Homo sapiens: one gene and its partner. The protein of the gene in region 2 purifies or fractionates together with the protein of the main gene of each other region. This does not show direct contact. Each region holds a gene or a part of one and is shown on either strand. Other genes may lie near its edges.

Region 1 (7,722 bases), about 55 Mb from region 2:
AGCCTTTATGAAGCTGGTCTCCTGCTTGCATTCTGATGTCTTCCCATATCTCTCCTCTGATTACGCACTCCCTCCCTGTCTCCATCCAGGCCGGCCATATTGGACTCTTGCTGTTCCTCAAACACATCTAACCTTAGGGCTTTTTCGAGTGAGGTTTACTCACTACAGAGTTCTTTAATAACCACACCAGTGAAATGTGTATCTCTGTTACTGGGGAGATGAGTTGAGATTTTCCAAATCGGGAATACAAACCCAAGCCGTGTTTTTCTGCCATTACGTCACACTTTTCCAGCAAGAAAAAGCCTCATTTCATCCTGAGAATAAACAAAATAACCACAGTGTTTTGTAACTCATTTGAAGATGTTCAAAAGGGCCTTGAGGCTTTGATCCTTGCCTCTTCCTACCTTTGTAGCCTTGTGATTGTGTCACTGGTAGGACATGACATCCTGTCATCCTTGATAATACGCTTTAAAATTACCCCACCAGTACTGGGTTTTCTTTTGGGATGATGAAATATTTTGGAACTAGGGAGAGGTTGTGGTTGTACAACATTGTGAATGTTCTAAATGCCGCTGAATTGTTCACTTTAAGATGGTTAATGTTATGTTATGTGAATTTCACCTCATTAAAAAAATTACCACACCAGTGTTGGTTCAGTGTTGAAGCCGGTTTGTCTCTGCTGTCATGGGTATTATCATGAAGCATTTTTGCTAAACTCCACTTTGTTAATGCTTCTCTAGTAAGAGCAAAGCATCTCAAGGTTCTTTATTGCTGTCCATTTTCCATTTTACAGGGGTTTGCTTAAGTGGCCAGGATATATGTGTTTATAAAGCATTTTGAAGTCATGGACTAACCCCAAATCATATATCTTGTATCAGTATTAATATTTGCACCTTCTGTCTTTTGTCAGCTGGCAGATTTGGGTGAGGGTAGTTAATTAATTTGGTCATCACAACTGATTTAATTTCTGGGAGAAGCTTGTATTTTAAGGCAAATTCAAATCTGTAATAATATAGCCTCCTTGGAAATTTTCACTTTTTCCTTTTGTGGGATGAACCATCTTCAAACACAAATCAGACACAAGAGAAAACTAGAAGACAGAAAATAAAGAATTGTTTAGCAACTTTTTTCCATAAGCACATATTTCATATCATTTCAACAAATTTGAGGAAGCACGAATAAACCTAAGTGACTTTAGCAAGATCAGTTGTACCTGTATATACTGGCAGCAAGAAACTAGAAAATTAAAATTTATGATACCATTTATGATAGCATCCAAAAAATTGAATACCCAGCTGTAAATATAATAATTTGGGTGTTATTGATACAGACCATGACACCTTTGTTGTGACTGCCACCTGGCCTGACAGAGATTGTGAGACATCCTGATTTCAGAGATGTTAACAATGATTTTTTTAAAGTGTCTTTGACTTGAAGCAATATGGTAATAATTTTCTGTGAAAAATTATGTAAAATGTCAGTCCTCTATGAAATCTATAGAAGTTCAGCCTGTGACCAGGTCTGGAAGTTTTGCTTACCACTCTACAGCGTGATTTTAATGTTATTTTTTGTTCAAAATCTGCTCTTAAAAAGAAGTTGAGCAGTGCCTACCTTTGCATTGGAAGGTACTGTTAACTATAGCTTTACTGAACAAATTAACTTCATAGACTGGCTATGGAGGCAAGTAAAGCCACAAAGGGTGGATGGTGGTGTGTGGGGTGCAGGGTTGGGTCTGAGCATTGAGCCACCGGCACAGAAGGGTTTGTTTCCCTGGTGTGAGTGATATGGGGCAGGGTCTGTGGGGGTCAGTGCAGCAAAAAAACAAAACCAACAAAAAACCCACAGAAATGTTTGCCTATCTAGGTGACTTGTGACTATTCCAAGATTTGTCTGTCCCTCCATCCTCCCACCTCTCTGATCCTTTCATGAACAAGGGAAAGTTGACATTTTAAAGAATCACATTGATGAGGTTAAATTGGGAGAATCGCTTGAACCCGGCAGGCAAAGGTCGCAGTGAGCTGAGATTGTGCCACTGCACTCCAGCCTGGGCGACAGAGCAAGACTCTGTCTCAAAAAATGATAATAATAATAATGAGGTTAAATTGCTTGAAAACCAGCCAATATAATGTTATGTGCATTTCATCAAATTTGGTTATTTTTTAAAAAGCATTTATTTGAGGCTGCTCAGTATTTGGGATAGCCTTTTATGTGTCAGAAATGCCACAGCAGAACAGGTGTGTGTGTATGTGTGTGTGTGTGTGTGTGTGTGTGTGTGTGTGTGTGTGTTTAGGCAGGAGGAGGTTTATGTCTGTGAGCTTTTATGTCCAAGTCCTGAAGTCCAAGCTGTCAGAACAATGACAGCTAAAATTCATTTAGCACTTATTATATGTCAAGTATTTTCCAAACTTCAGGATTTCTCACAAAGGTAGATTTCAATATAGTTCTAAATGGTTATCCTTGTAGTACATATAAGTTTCACCTTTAAAAGAGAGCTAGTTGAACTGTATACTGAAAAATGCTTGATGGTAAGTTTTATGTTACATGTTTTTATCACAGTTTTTAAGAGAACCATAAGCTCAGGAATTTACTATAAAGCCAAAGTAAATTCTAAATTAAAAAATGATGAACAATAGCAATATGCAGTTCTTTTTTTTTTTTTTTTTTTTGAGATGGAGTCACTCTGTCGCACAGGCTGGAGTGCAGTGATGCAGTCTCGGCTCACTGCAACCTCTGCCTCCAGGGTTCAAGTGATTCTCATGCCTCTGCCTCCCAAGTAGCTGGGATTACAGGCACGTGCCAGCACACCTGGCTAATTTGTTGTATTTTTTAGTAGAGACGGTTTCACCATGTCAGCCAGGCTGGTCTTGAACTCCTGACCTCAGGTGATCCACCCGTCTTGACCTCCCAAAGTGCTGGGATTACTGGCGTGAGCCACTGTGCCCGGTCTTTTTTTTTTTTTTTTTTTTTTTTCAGTATGCAGTTTTTGAAGGAAAACCTTATGATTCTTTTTAGCATTTTAAATTCTTTGCTCCTTTTAAAAGCAGATTTTTCACCATTTATCAAATCTAGTTCTTAGCTGAAGAATTATGCTTCCATTGATAGATCCTTTAGAAACAAACACATAATGAATGGCTAAAGCCTTATAAAATTAGCTGCAGATGGCACATATCTTGAGCCTAACTTAACTGGGTTATCCCACAGACTAATTCAAATGAATCATCTTTTATTCTATAATAAAACCTCATGTTTCCTAGCACTATAAGTATGGATTTTTTGTTGGTTTGTTTGCCATTGTTAACCACATTTTCTGTTTTTAATCAGATTTCTTTTTTAATACTAAGAAGTTATCTAACATACAAATCTGAGTTTCACTGAATAAATTTTGCTTCGAATTTATTTTTATATGATGCTGAAACTTTTCATCTTAAATTATAATGTGTCAATACTTTCAGTCTGTTGGGCATGGGAAGTTGTATAGCTAACCCTCAGCTACCCATGTAACACCCTTGTTACCTGTCTGGGCCCCAGGTTCCTTGTGGAGAAGCACTGGTATAAGCAGTGGGAGGCATACGTGCAGGGAGGGGACCAGGACTCCAGCACCTTCCCTGGCTGCATCAACAATGCCACACTCTTTCAAGGTACAAGGCCTTTGCCTCCTTCTCACCCTAGCCCTGGAGTTCTTGTCCCTTCCGTCCCTACAGATGATCATAAGCCCATTCTGTGTGCTAGGTCACTGGTGGGGTGGCCAGAGTCATTCGTCAGTTTCCTTTGTTGATTCTTCCTCTGCCACCTCCACCCCCGCCCCACAGATGAGATAAACTGGCGCCTCAAGGAGGGACTGGTGGAAGGCGAGGATTATGTGCTGCTCCCAGCAGCTGCTTGGCATTACCTGGTCAGCTGGTATGGTCTAGAGCATGGCCAGCCACCCATTGAACGCAAGGTATAATGGATGGGGAGGGTGCATGGCGGGGAGTGCGTAGTAAGAAAGCCTTGTAGGCCCAGCATGGGTACAGATCCATGTATGCTGGGTAGGTACACATATGTCTGCTCTCTTCCCCCTCCTAGCTCATCATACAGGTATCTTTGTCTGCTGTGTGTGTTCCCCTGTGTGGCTCTCTTTACAGACCATTGTATATGTGTGTTTGTATGCTATGTTTGTAAGGCAGAGTGTGTGCTCCTCTCATTTGAGAGGTCACAGCGCTGTGTCTGTGTGAGTACACCTGTGTCTGCACCCCTCTACTCTTACAGGTCATAGAGCTGCCCAACATCCAGAAGGTCGAAGTGTACCCAGTAGAACTGCTGCTTGTCCGGCACAATGATTTGGGCAAATCTCACACTGTTCAGTTCAGCCATACCGATTCTATTGGTGAGTCTAAGGGTCACGCAATGGGTTGGTGTTCCTAGCTACTAGTCCCAACTCAGTGACTTGAGGTTGCATAGGGTTAAGCTGAAGCTGACTGAGAAGGCACTGGTCAGACTTTGGAAGACCCAGAAGGCATTGGCTAAGTTGGGTGGAGGCACTGAGGGGATCTACTAGAGCCCTGAGGGTATGTGAGCTACATTCTAGTGGCTTACGTGGTGTGGCAGAGGATATTTGCTGGAGATCTCCAGTCTGGAGTGTGGGCCAGTCATTTGGAGACTGATTGAGGACACAGGTATTGGCCAAGCATGTGAGGTCCGTAGGGATGAGTCAGGTATGCCCAGATGGATTGATCATTTTGGGTCTCACAAAGATCTTGAATGTACTCCATCACCCCGCACAGGCCTAGTATTGCGCACAGCTCGGGAGCGGTTTCTGGTGGAGCCCCAGGAAGACACTCGGCTTTGGGCCAAGAACTCAGAAGGCTCTTTGGATAGGTTGTATGACACACACATCACGGTTCTCGATGCGGCCCTTGAGACTGGGCAGGTAAGGGTGGGGAGGGCTTTTCTGTTCAGGTGGACTGGCAGATAGACTCACCTGGCAGTACTCGGGGGAAATGAAGGCTAGGTACCCATAATGTCCTCCATTAATACCTTTCCTTCTTTCTCTTTCTCCAACCCAGTTGATCATCATGGAGACCCGCAAGAAAGATGGCACTTGGCCCAGCGCACAGCTGCATGTCATGTGAGCCCTTGGGGTATCTGGTCCAGAGCGGGGGCGTCCCACAGTAGGCAAAATGATTTAGCCCATGAGCACATTGCACCCCCATGCAGCAGGCCCTCAGCTGACAGTTTCTCATCTAACCCCAGGAACAACAACATGTCGGAAGAGGATGAGGACTTCAAGGGTCAGCCAGGCATCTGTGGCCTCACCAATCTGGGCAACACGTGCTTCATGAACTCGGCCCTGCAGGTTGGGCCATTATAGTTGTGTCTGGCACAGCCACGTGGTTGGGCTTCAAGAGCTGAGGATTGGGGACAGAGCTGGGGTCCTGAGGGGACTACAGGGCAAGGGGTCAGGATGAAAGCTGAGGCCCCACAAGTCTGAAGTGGCACGCCCACGTTCATTCCTGAACTATCAGCCTCTTCTCTCAGCTTGCCCTCATTTTCCCTCTTCTCTTCCCTGTTCCCACGTTCTTCCTTCTCGTGAAATCCTAATGCCTTCTCTCCCCTACTCTCCTGCTCCTCTCTCTCCTCCCTTCCCCTTCTCTCTTGTTTTCCTCTCTCTTTCCTCCTGGCTTCTTTTTGTGTATCCTCACTTTGAACCTTCTGTCTCCCCTCTGCCTCATTCACCTGGTCTCTGGCCTCTGCAGTGCCTCAGCAATGTGCCACAGCTCACCGAGTACTTCCTCAACAACTGCTACCTGGAGGAGCTCAACTTCCGCAACCCACTGGGCATGAAGGGTGAGATCGCAGAGGCCTATGCAGACCTGGTGAAGCAGGCGTGGTCTGGCCACCACCGCTCCATTGTGCCACATGTGTTCAAGGTGTGACTCAACCCTGGGCACCCCCGACCCCCTACGTCTCTTGGCTCTCCTAACTCCCTCTCTCTCTGATGACCCTGCCCATCTTCTTAGAACAAGGTTGGCCATTTTGCATCCCAATTTCTGGGCTACCAGCAGCATGACTCTCAGGAGCTGCTGTCATTCCTCCTGGACGGGCTGCATGAGGACCTTAATCGGGTGAAGAAGAAGGAGTATGTGGAGCTGTGCGATGCTGCTGGGCGACCGGATCAGGTAGGCTGCCCCCGCATTTGCAGTCCAATTAACATCACCAAGGCCTCTGCCTCGGGGATTTTCTGGCCTCCCTGGGGTATCTAACACGCCACCATTTTCTGTTAAGTTTCTCTACCTGACCTCAACTCCAGCCTTACTCTTAACCTTAGTTGCAATACCATATCTGCCCCCACAGTCAACCCAGAGTAAACCCCAGCGCAGTCTCCTGCCCTAAATGACCCCCAGTCTTGACCGTGAACATAGTCTCTGTGTATCCCTAGCTGGAGCTCTGCCTCTGGACTTTAGCAGTGGCCTTCCGCTTCACCCCATTTGAATGCACCCCAAGCCATGGTTTCCTCTTACCCTGGGCAAGCCCCACCACCCACCATGACACTATCAACAGGAGGTGGCACAGGAGGCATGGCAAAACCACAAACGGCGGAACGATTCTGTGATCGTGGACACTTTCCACGGCCTCTTCAAGTCCACGCTGGTGTGCCCCGATTGTGGCAATGTATCTGTGACCTTCGACCCCTTCTGCTACCTCAGTGTTCCACTGCCTATCAGCCACAAGAGGGTCTTGGAGGTCTTCTTTATCCCCATGGATCCGCGCCGCAAGCCAGAGCAGGTGTGGGGCAGTGGGGGCCTGGGGAGATGATGATGGACACATAGAGTTTGATTAGCTGCCATAGCTCAAGGCTTCTTGCATTAACTCACCACAAGCCCTTTTGGTCTTTTGTGGATACCGTTTTTCCCTTAGCACCGGCTCGTGGTCCCCAAGAAAGGCAAGATCTCGGATCTATGTGTGGCTCTGTCCAAACACACGGGCATCTCGCCAGAGAGGGTGAGACTGCAGAAGGAGGCTGGATGGGATTCCAGGGCAAGGAGGCAGAAGGGCCTGGGAGGCCGTGCAGACTAACAGTCCCCTCTCCATATCCCATTCCTAGATGATGGTGGCTGATGTCTTCAGTCACCGCTTCTATAAGCTCTATCAGCTAGAGGAGCCTCTGAGCAGCATCTTGGACCGTGATGATATCTTCGTGTGAGTGGGGATGGCAGGGAGGTGGTGGTTCCTCAGGAACTTGGTCCACTTCCTTTTGTATGGTCCTGCCTTAACCACCTTCTCTCTTCCCTGCCTCTGCCTCGTTCACTGGGCACCTGCCCTGCGCAGAGCTTCAGCCACATGCCTTGGGAGGCTGAGGCAGGAGAATCACTTGAACCCGAGAGGTTCAAGTGAGCCAAGATCACGCCACTGCACTCCAGTCTGGGCGACAGGGCAAAACTCCATCTCAAAAATAAATAAAGCCGGGCGCGGTGGCTCACGCCTGTAATCCCAGCACTTTGGGAGGCTGAAGCAGGCAGATCACGAGGTCAGGAGATGGAGACCATCCTGGCTAACACGGTGAAACCCCGTCTCTACTAAAAATACAAAAAATTAGCCGGGCGTGGTGGCAGGTGCCTGTAGTCCCAGCTACTCGGGAGGCTGAGGCAGGAGAATGGCATGAACCCGGGAGGCGGAGCTTGCAGTGAGCCGAGATCGTGCCACTGCACTGCAGCCTGGGCAACAGAGCGAGACTCCGTCTCA
Region 2 (7,115 bases):
TAAAAATTACAAATGTGGGTAGGGGTGTTAAACTGGTAAGGTGGGACCTGGAAGGACTTTCCTAGAAGAGAATTTACTCTAAGGAAAGATGAGTCAAGCATACAAGTCACTGACAGATGAGAACAGATGAGTGTGTGCCACTCAAATTTTACCCCAGCCTCTATCTCTGAATTTGGTGGAGAGATGGCTGTATGCAAACACTTACAAACCAACAAGCATAGAAATAATTGTTTTACTAAAAATCTGAAATCCCCCAGGGGCTGAAGCATCACTGAGGTGTTACCCTATTGGGCGAGTATAACTCTAAAGTGAGGAAAGGGACTTTATCCACATTTTCATAGTTGTTGTGGAATGGGGTCAGTAGGCTTGGCTCACTGGAAATCAACTGGACCTTGTTACCTTGAGAACTTCAGCCCATCGGCATCAATGTGAGCTTTAGGAGGGTGCAAGATTTATGAGAAGGAGCACAGTGCCCAGTGGACATGACATTGTCTAAAAGAGGATGGCACCCACCTTTCAGTTTCCTAGACTTATTCCTGGACACAGGTAAGATTTACCCTAGTCCTCTTCCAAGTGTCTGAGGGGGTATTTTTTTCTGCTAGAGCAGGGGAGAAGGTAGATGCCAACCCAACAAATATATTCTCTACCTTATCCAACCCACTCAGCAGTTCTGAAAAGCAAGGTATTATCTCTATTTGACAAATGAAAAGACTGTCCGTTAGAGCAATGGATCTGTAATAACCCCAGATTGACTTCTCCAGATGAGTCCCACAGGTAGGTAATGTGAATTTTACCTATCATTTTAAGTTCTGACAACAAGAACGTTAAGTGTCTCTACTGAACTTCATAAGTTCACTGGACAGTTATTCTCTTTGCTTTTTACATACTGTTCTGATTTTTTAAAAATATTTTATTATTTTTGTGAGAAAAGTAATTTGTGTTCTCTGGGAAAAGAAAGATTAGTAGAAAGAAAACAAAGAAATGAAATCACCTGCTAGCTCACAACTCAGAAAACCACTGTTAACCTTTCATGTATTTAACAAAAACAGACAGATTCTGTAGATGATATTATAAGCTGCTTTATTTTTCCACGAATCATGACGTCTCTGCAATGCACATGTGTGAAAATCTGCTACTGAAACATAGAGCAAGCAAACACTGGCAGGTGGGTCAAAACGCTACTGGTAGCAGGAGGAACGACTAAAGCAAAGTATTACCATAAGGTTAAAACATATGGCCTGACAAATGCCTGCCAGGGACACTACACATAAGGAATGTCTTCAGTGTCCCTTCGTGGGGCCCTGCAGCCACCCCTGAATTCCCTTGGACCCCTAGGATAGAAGGGGTCCTGTAAATTTCTTTGCATCCACAAAAACGCCCCCAATTTCTGTTTGCTTTTTCTCCTTTTATCCTCCACCCTAGCCATGTTGTCAAATTCTCTTATCATGTCCTCATTGCTGAAATTCATATCATGTATGGCTTCCTTATATTGCTTGAGGTACTGAGCCAGCCCCTTGTTGGTTTTTCTTTTGGCTTTCCTGGGTATATCATCCTCAGCTGGGCGCTTTCCTGCAGCCCTTGTTTCACTTTCTGGCTCTCCCTCACTCTCTGGCTCTCTTTCACTGTCTGGCTCTCCTTCACCCTCTGCCCTTCCCCCTCTCTCTGGCTTTCCCTCTGTCTTTGATCCTCCCTGCATCTCTGACTTTCCCTTCCTCTCTGACTTTCCTTCTCCTTTTGCCTTTCCCGCACTCTCTGGCTTTTCTTTATCCTTTAACGGTTCCTCAACTCTCTTGCCCGTGTTTTCTGTGTTTCCCTCGTTTTCTAACTTCTTGTCTTCCAGAATACAAGCTACTTCTGGCTTTCCCTCGTGCGGTGGCTGTTCTTCATTGTCTATCTTTCCTTGATTCGAAGGCATTCCTTCATTTTCATTGAAGAGTTTTTCCATGTCGAGATTTCCCCTCCTTTTCCTTTCCTGGGGGATGGGTGTGGAGGGAAGAGGAGACAAAGAGGAGACATGGGAGACTGAGGGCATGGGGTGGAATGCAGGTCTGGATACTACTTGCATCTCACCCCTGGTGAGGGTTCCCCTAAGCTGACTGGGCCTCCAAGAGGGCCTTCTGCCCACCACGTAGCCCACCACTCCTCCCACACACGTGAGCCAGCTGTTCCCTGGCAGGCCCTGCCACCTTCTCTGCACTGGTTCAGCCTGGTAAGGTGTGTGTTCATGTAGGTAAGGGGATGGGCAGGGGCCCCAATTCGGCCCTGACTGTGCCCTCCACACTCTCAACCCTTGTGGGCCCCTGTCCATGCAGCCCCCTGCTTTCACGGACCTGCGGGGATTCTGGACAGGTTGCTCTTCCTTTTCAGGCCTCTCAGAGCGCTGGGAACAACAGACGCGCAGACCTGCGGACAGACAGGAGACAGGGGCAGGGGCTGCGCGCTTAGCGGGCTCACAGGGACTCGGTTCCCTTTCCTGAGTCCAGGCCCTGCTTACCCACCGTTTTCCTCCCCTACCTCCCCCGCACCCCAGCCGCCATTTCTTTCCAGGCCTCGGGCACCAAACCAGGATGCTTTCCAAACTGCGTTTGTCTCTGTGTCCCCCTTCCCCGGAGGCAACCTGCCCCAGCGCCACCTCATTTTTGCGGAGATCAAGTGTTTCCATGGGTGTAGATTGTGAGAAGGGGTTATTTCCAGAATATGTCTACGTTTCACTGTCGCACTGCGGGGTCGCTACCCCCACCCCCCATTTCCAGCACTAAAATGGATGGAGGACTCAGTGCAAGGGGGCGTCGAGAAGGCGAGCCAGGCTTGCTTCGGGGGTTCTCCCTCCACTGCCCCCGCCCCCGCGACTCCGCATCCCCCTCCTCCCCAATCTACCGGATCCCTTCTCCGCCCCCTCCCCAATCCTACTGCCAGCCCCCTCCACCCCTGTCCCAGGGTCCGCCGGCAGCGCACGCCTTCACACTGACCTGCGGGGACCCAGGACAGGCCTGTGCCTCCTGCGGCTCGCTGAAGCCCGCTCGCTGCTCCCCCGCCGCCTGGGCAGCTCAGACAGCTGATTCTGCGCGGGCGCCCGGACCCGACCGCTGGGCGGGCTGGCGGGCGGGCGCGGGGGCTGGTGCCCACGTAGGCGCCGGGCGGGTCACGTGAGCACCGCGTCACCGGAGCTCTGCCCCCGCTCTTGCCTGACACACCTCACCTTGGAGCTGGGCCCCCCTCTCTTTCCTGACATACCTCACCTTCCATCCCTGAGGGACCGGAGGCTGGGGACGGTCGGAGTCTCGGTGCGTTTGTGTAGCAAAGTGGGGTCGCGGAGAAGAGGAGGAGAGGTGGCTTTCTGACCCTAGGTGCTTTACCTGACGCAGCTCACAGCATCCTCGCAAGGCATATCTCTCTGATGCCCATTATCGCCAGGTGTGACAGCTGATCATAGAGGTACCGGACTTTGCCAAGAGCGCTCAGCCCCAGAACTCCACAGCCCACTTTCAATACCGGCTCTGCCTGACTCCAGAGCCCGGGGGGTAGTGGTGCCTGCCAGGAAGCTGAGCTGCCACCTTGAGTGGCGGTGTTCCTGGGGTTCTGTCCTGGGCCTCCTCTCTCCTCAGTCCTCAAGTTGTCTCTCCCTGTGTGATCTCATTCATTTCCAGTAAACACCGATGACTCCCAGATCTACAGCTCCAGGCTGTTCCCTTCTCCGTGTCTCATATCAGCTTTGCCAACTGTCTATTGGACATCACCGCCTGAGTGTCCCTGAGGGACCCCAAAGCCCGTGTACCCCAAATTGATTTACCAACTTCCTTCTTGCCATCTCCCTTGGTCTCTCTCCACACTTGAAACTTACCTTCCAACATTTGATCAGTTTTCATAGAGAGAGAATGTCAGACAGGTAGAAAAGAAAGCATTAAAACATTTTAAATATGAATTTCAGATGCACAAATTCATCATAGTCCTTGGTTTACAACACACCCTTATCATCGATCCCTGCTTGTCCCTCTTCCTTCCCTTTTCTTTCCCGTCCTATTATTTCCTCCCCTTCCCATCCTTTGTCTTTTTTTTCTTTCCTTTTCTTTCACATTCGTGAAGCCACCACCCACAAAAACTAAGAATCACCAATATTTTAGCTTCTACAGTATAGTGACATGTATATGTATATATACACATGTTTATTTATACACACATATATGTATAGATGTATATGTGTGTACATATGTATGTGTATGTCTTGTGTATATCTGGGCAACAACTATTTTTATTTTGATTTGCAAAATACCTTATCATGATTACAGGATTATGAATTATGTGTGTTACACAAGCAATTCTGATTATATTTCTGCTACACATCTTTCTTCATTTAGTAAAACCTTGATCTTCCTACAGTATTTTGCTCTATCAATATGTGTATTCGTCATTATCACCACATCACCAATAATTCTGTCCTCAATGTTGAATTTTTTTCCTGAATTATCGAGGCTAGGTGTTTCAATTTCATCAGTATAAACTTCCATAAAATTATTATAATTATTCAAGAATTTGATGAAAATAATATCAAATCAGTTGAAAAGAACTGATTTTCTGTTTTAATCATCTAATTATAGTGATTTTAAGCTGTCTTCAGTAACTATTTGCTAAGTTATTTTGCTAATGGAGCCAAAGTATTAACAACTATTTCTCCTCTTTTAAAACATATACACAAAAATGTGGGATTCAAAATTAGTATCATTAAATTTGAAGAAATGTCATTTTATCTAAATTAAAAGATCTGTTCACAAAATGAGAAGTCAACACAACTTTTGCATTTGCATGTAATAAATTGACACATTGTTCCTCAAGTAATTACTACCTTTGGAAGAAGATATAATGACAGTTCTCTTGATGCATAGTATATGTTGATTAAACATATTTTAAGTTAAATGTTTGTCATCCACTTTCTTAGAAAAGTAACATTACTGAACATACCATTCACTAGAGACCTTTTGTTTCTTATTGCAGAATAAAAGTATCATTCCCATCAGTAAAATAAATATAGACATATATTAACACTATAAAATCACTAAGTGATACCAACACCTGGCAGAGACACACACACAAAAAGGAAACTTCAGGCCAATATCCTTAATTAACATGGATGCAAAAATCCTCAACAAAATAGTGGCAAACTGAATACAGTAGCATGTCAAAAAATGTATCCACCATGATCAAGTAGGATCCATCTCCAGGATGCAAGTTTAGCTCAATATACACAAATCAATAAATGTGATTCATCACATAAACAGAACTAAAGACAAAAGCCACATGATCATCTCAGTAGATGCAGAAAAGGCTATGGATAAAATTCAACATCCCTTCATGTTAAAAACTCTCCATAAACTAGGTGTTGAAGGAATGTACCTCAAAATAACAAGAGCCATGTATAACAAATCCACAGCCAACATTATACTGAATGGGCAGAAGCTGGAAGCATTCCCCTTGAGAACCAGAACAAGACAAGGATGTCTCACACACTACCAGACAAAAACAATGCAAAAATGGAAGTAAAAAGTGGAGATCTGTGGTAGGCTTAATAATTGCCTTCAAAGATATCCAGGTCTTAATGCCTGGAACCTGTGAATTTTACCTTATATGGCAAAAGGGGACTTTGCAAATGTCATTAAGGATCTTGAGATAGGAAGATTACCAAGGATTATCCAGGAAGACCCTAAATGTAATAACAAGTATTCTTATAAAAGGGAAACAGAGAGAGATTTTACTACGGAAGAAGAAGGCAATGTGAAAACTGAAACAAGATTCTACACTACAGACTTAGAAGATGAAGGAAAAGGCCATGAGCCAAGAAAGGCAAGGAATGCAAACTCCAGACGATGGAAAATGTAAGAAAATAGAGTCTCTTTTGGACCTCCAGAGGAAGCAAAGCTCTGCCAATATCTTTACTTCAGCCTAGTAAAACTAATTTTGGACTTTGGACTTCCACAACTGTAAGAGAATTAATGTGTATCATCTTAAGCTAACAAAATTGTTATTTGTCACAGCAGCCCTAAGAACTAAAGGTTTCCTAAACCCATTCTGGCTTATTTTAACATAAATATCAGTAATAAGAGTACATTTTTAAAAATGACAAATTTTGGAAAACGTTAAGCTAGATGGGATCCTAGGTCAACAGGTAAAAATAATTAGGACTGTTCAGGGAAAGCCAGGAGATACTTTTATCCTAGAGGTAATTTATGTAAAGTCACTGGCACAGTGACTGGAACATAGCAAGAGTACAATTGGGTGAGTTTTCTTAGCTCCCTGGACAAGAATGCAATGCATTTTTAAAAACTTTTTTACATAATTGTAGATTTATTTGTAATTATAAGGAATAATAGAGATCTCTCTTATTCTTTTACCTGTTTTCCTCCAATGGCAACATCTTTTGTAGCTACAGTAGAGTATCACTACAGAAAATTAATATTGATATACTCTAACAACCTTTTTCATATTTCACCGTTTAACACACATCTATTTGTGTGAGAGTGTGCATGTTAGTTATATGCAATTTTATCACATATTTTTTCCCAGATGGAATCTCAATAACCTCCACATAGATATGAAAGGTGTTATTAAAAAAAATGGTTAGCACAGGAGAAATGACCTATCCAAGCCCTATGATGTAACTGGCTCTCAATGTTCTTTTGCAATGCTCTTCTGAAAAACCTCTTCTTGCAATGCTCTTCTGAAAAGCCTCTTCTTTCGGGGTCAATTGCACATATTTTTCTTGAGAATTTAACATAAAATATACAAAATGAATGATGAAGTATATGAAATAAAGTGAAATGAAGTGACGGTTTTATTTTACAAATTCAGTGGAACTGGTCCAGTGATTGTTCTTTTTTTAATTACTTTTATTTTAGGTTCAGAGGTATATGTACAAGTGTGTTTTAAGGGTAATTTGCATGCTGCATGTAATTTGCATGTTGTGGTGTGCAGATTATTTCATCACCCAGGTAATAAGCATAGTAGCTGATAGGTAATTTTTTAGTCGTCACCATCCACCTTCAAGTAGGCCCTGGTGTCTGTTGTTCCCTTATTTGCATCTATATATACTCAATGTTTAGCATGCACGTATGTGAGAACATGTG

What was found. Proteins that work in one complex are often made in the same cells at the same time.
Region 1: the proteins of TCEAL2 (region 2) and USP11 purify together in Homo sapiens (affinity purification with mass spectrometry; 3 studies listed by BioGRID). This does not show direct contact.

What each region holds. Positions count from the first base shown.
Region 1 is NC_000023.11:47,235,542-47,243,263, forward strand, and holds part of USP11 (ubiquitin carboxyl-terminal hydrolase 11), read left to right. Parts: intron 1-3,528; coding exon 3,529-3,638; intron 3,639-3,809; coding exon 3,810-3,940; intron 3,941-4,248; coding exon 4,249-4,366; intron 4,367-4,763; coding exon 4,764-4,909; intron 4,910-5,045; coding exon 5,046-5,107; intron 5,108-5,232; coding exon 5,233-5,335; intron 5,336-5,735; coding exon 5,736-5,909; intron 5,910-5,999; coding exon 6,000-6,158; intron 6,159-6,540; coding exon 6,541-6,765; intron 6,766-6,897; coding exon 6,898-6,981; intron 6,982-7,084; coding exon 7,085-7,179; intron 7,180-7,722.
Region 2 is NC_000023.11:102,121,661-102,128,775, reverse strand, and holds TCEAL2 (transcription elongation factor A protein-like 2), read right to left. Parts: upstream 3,098-7,115; 5' UTR 2,970-3,097; intron 2,404-2,969; 5' UTR 2,331-2,403; intron 1,973-2,330; 5' UTR 1,946-1,972; coding exon 1,262-1,945; 3' UTR 1,064-1,261; downstream 1-1,063. UniProt on the Homo sapiens protein: May be involved in transcriptional regulation.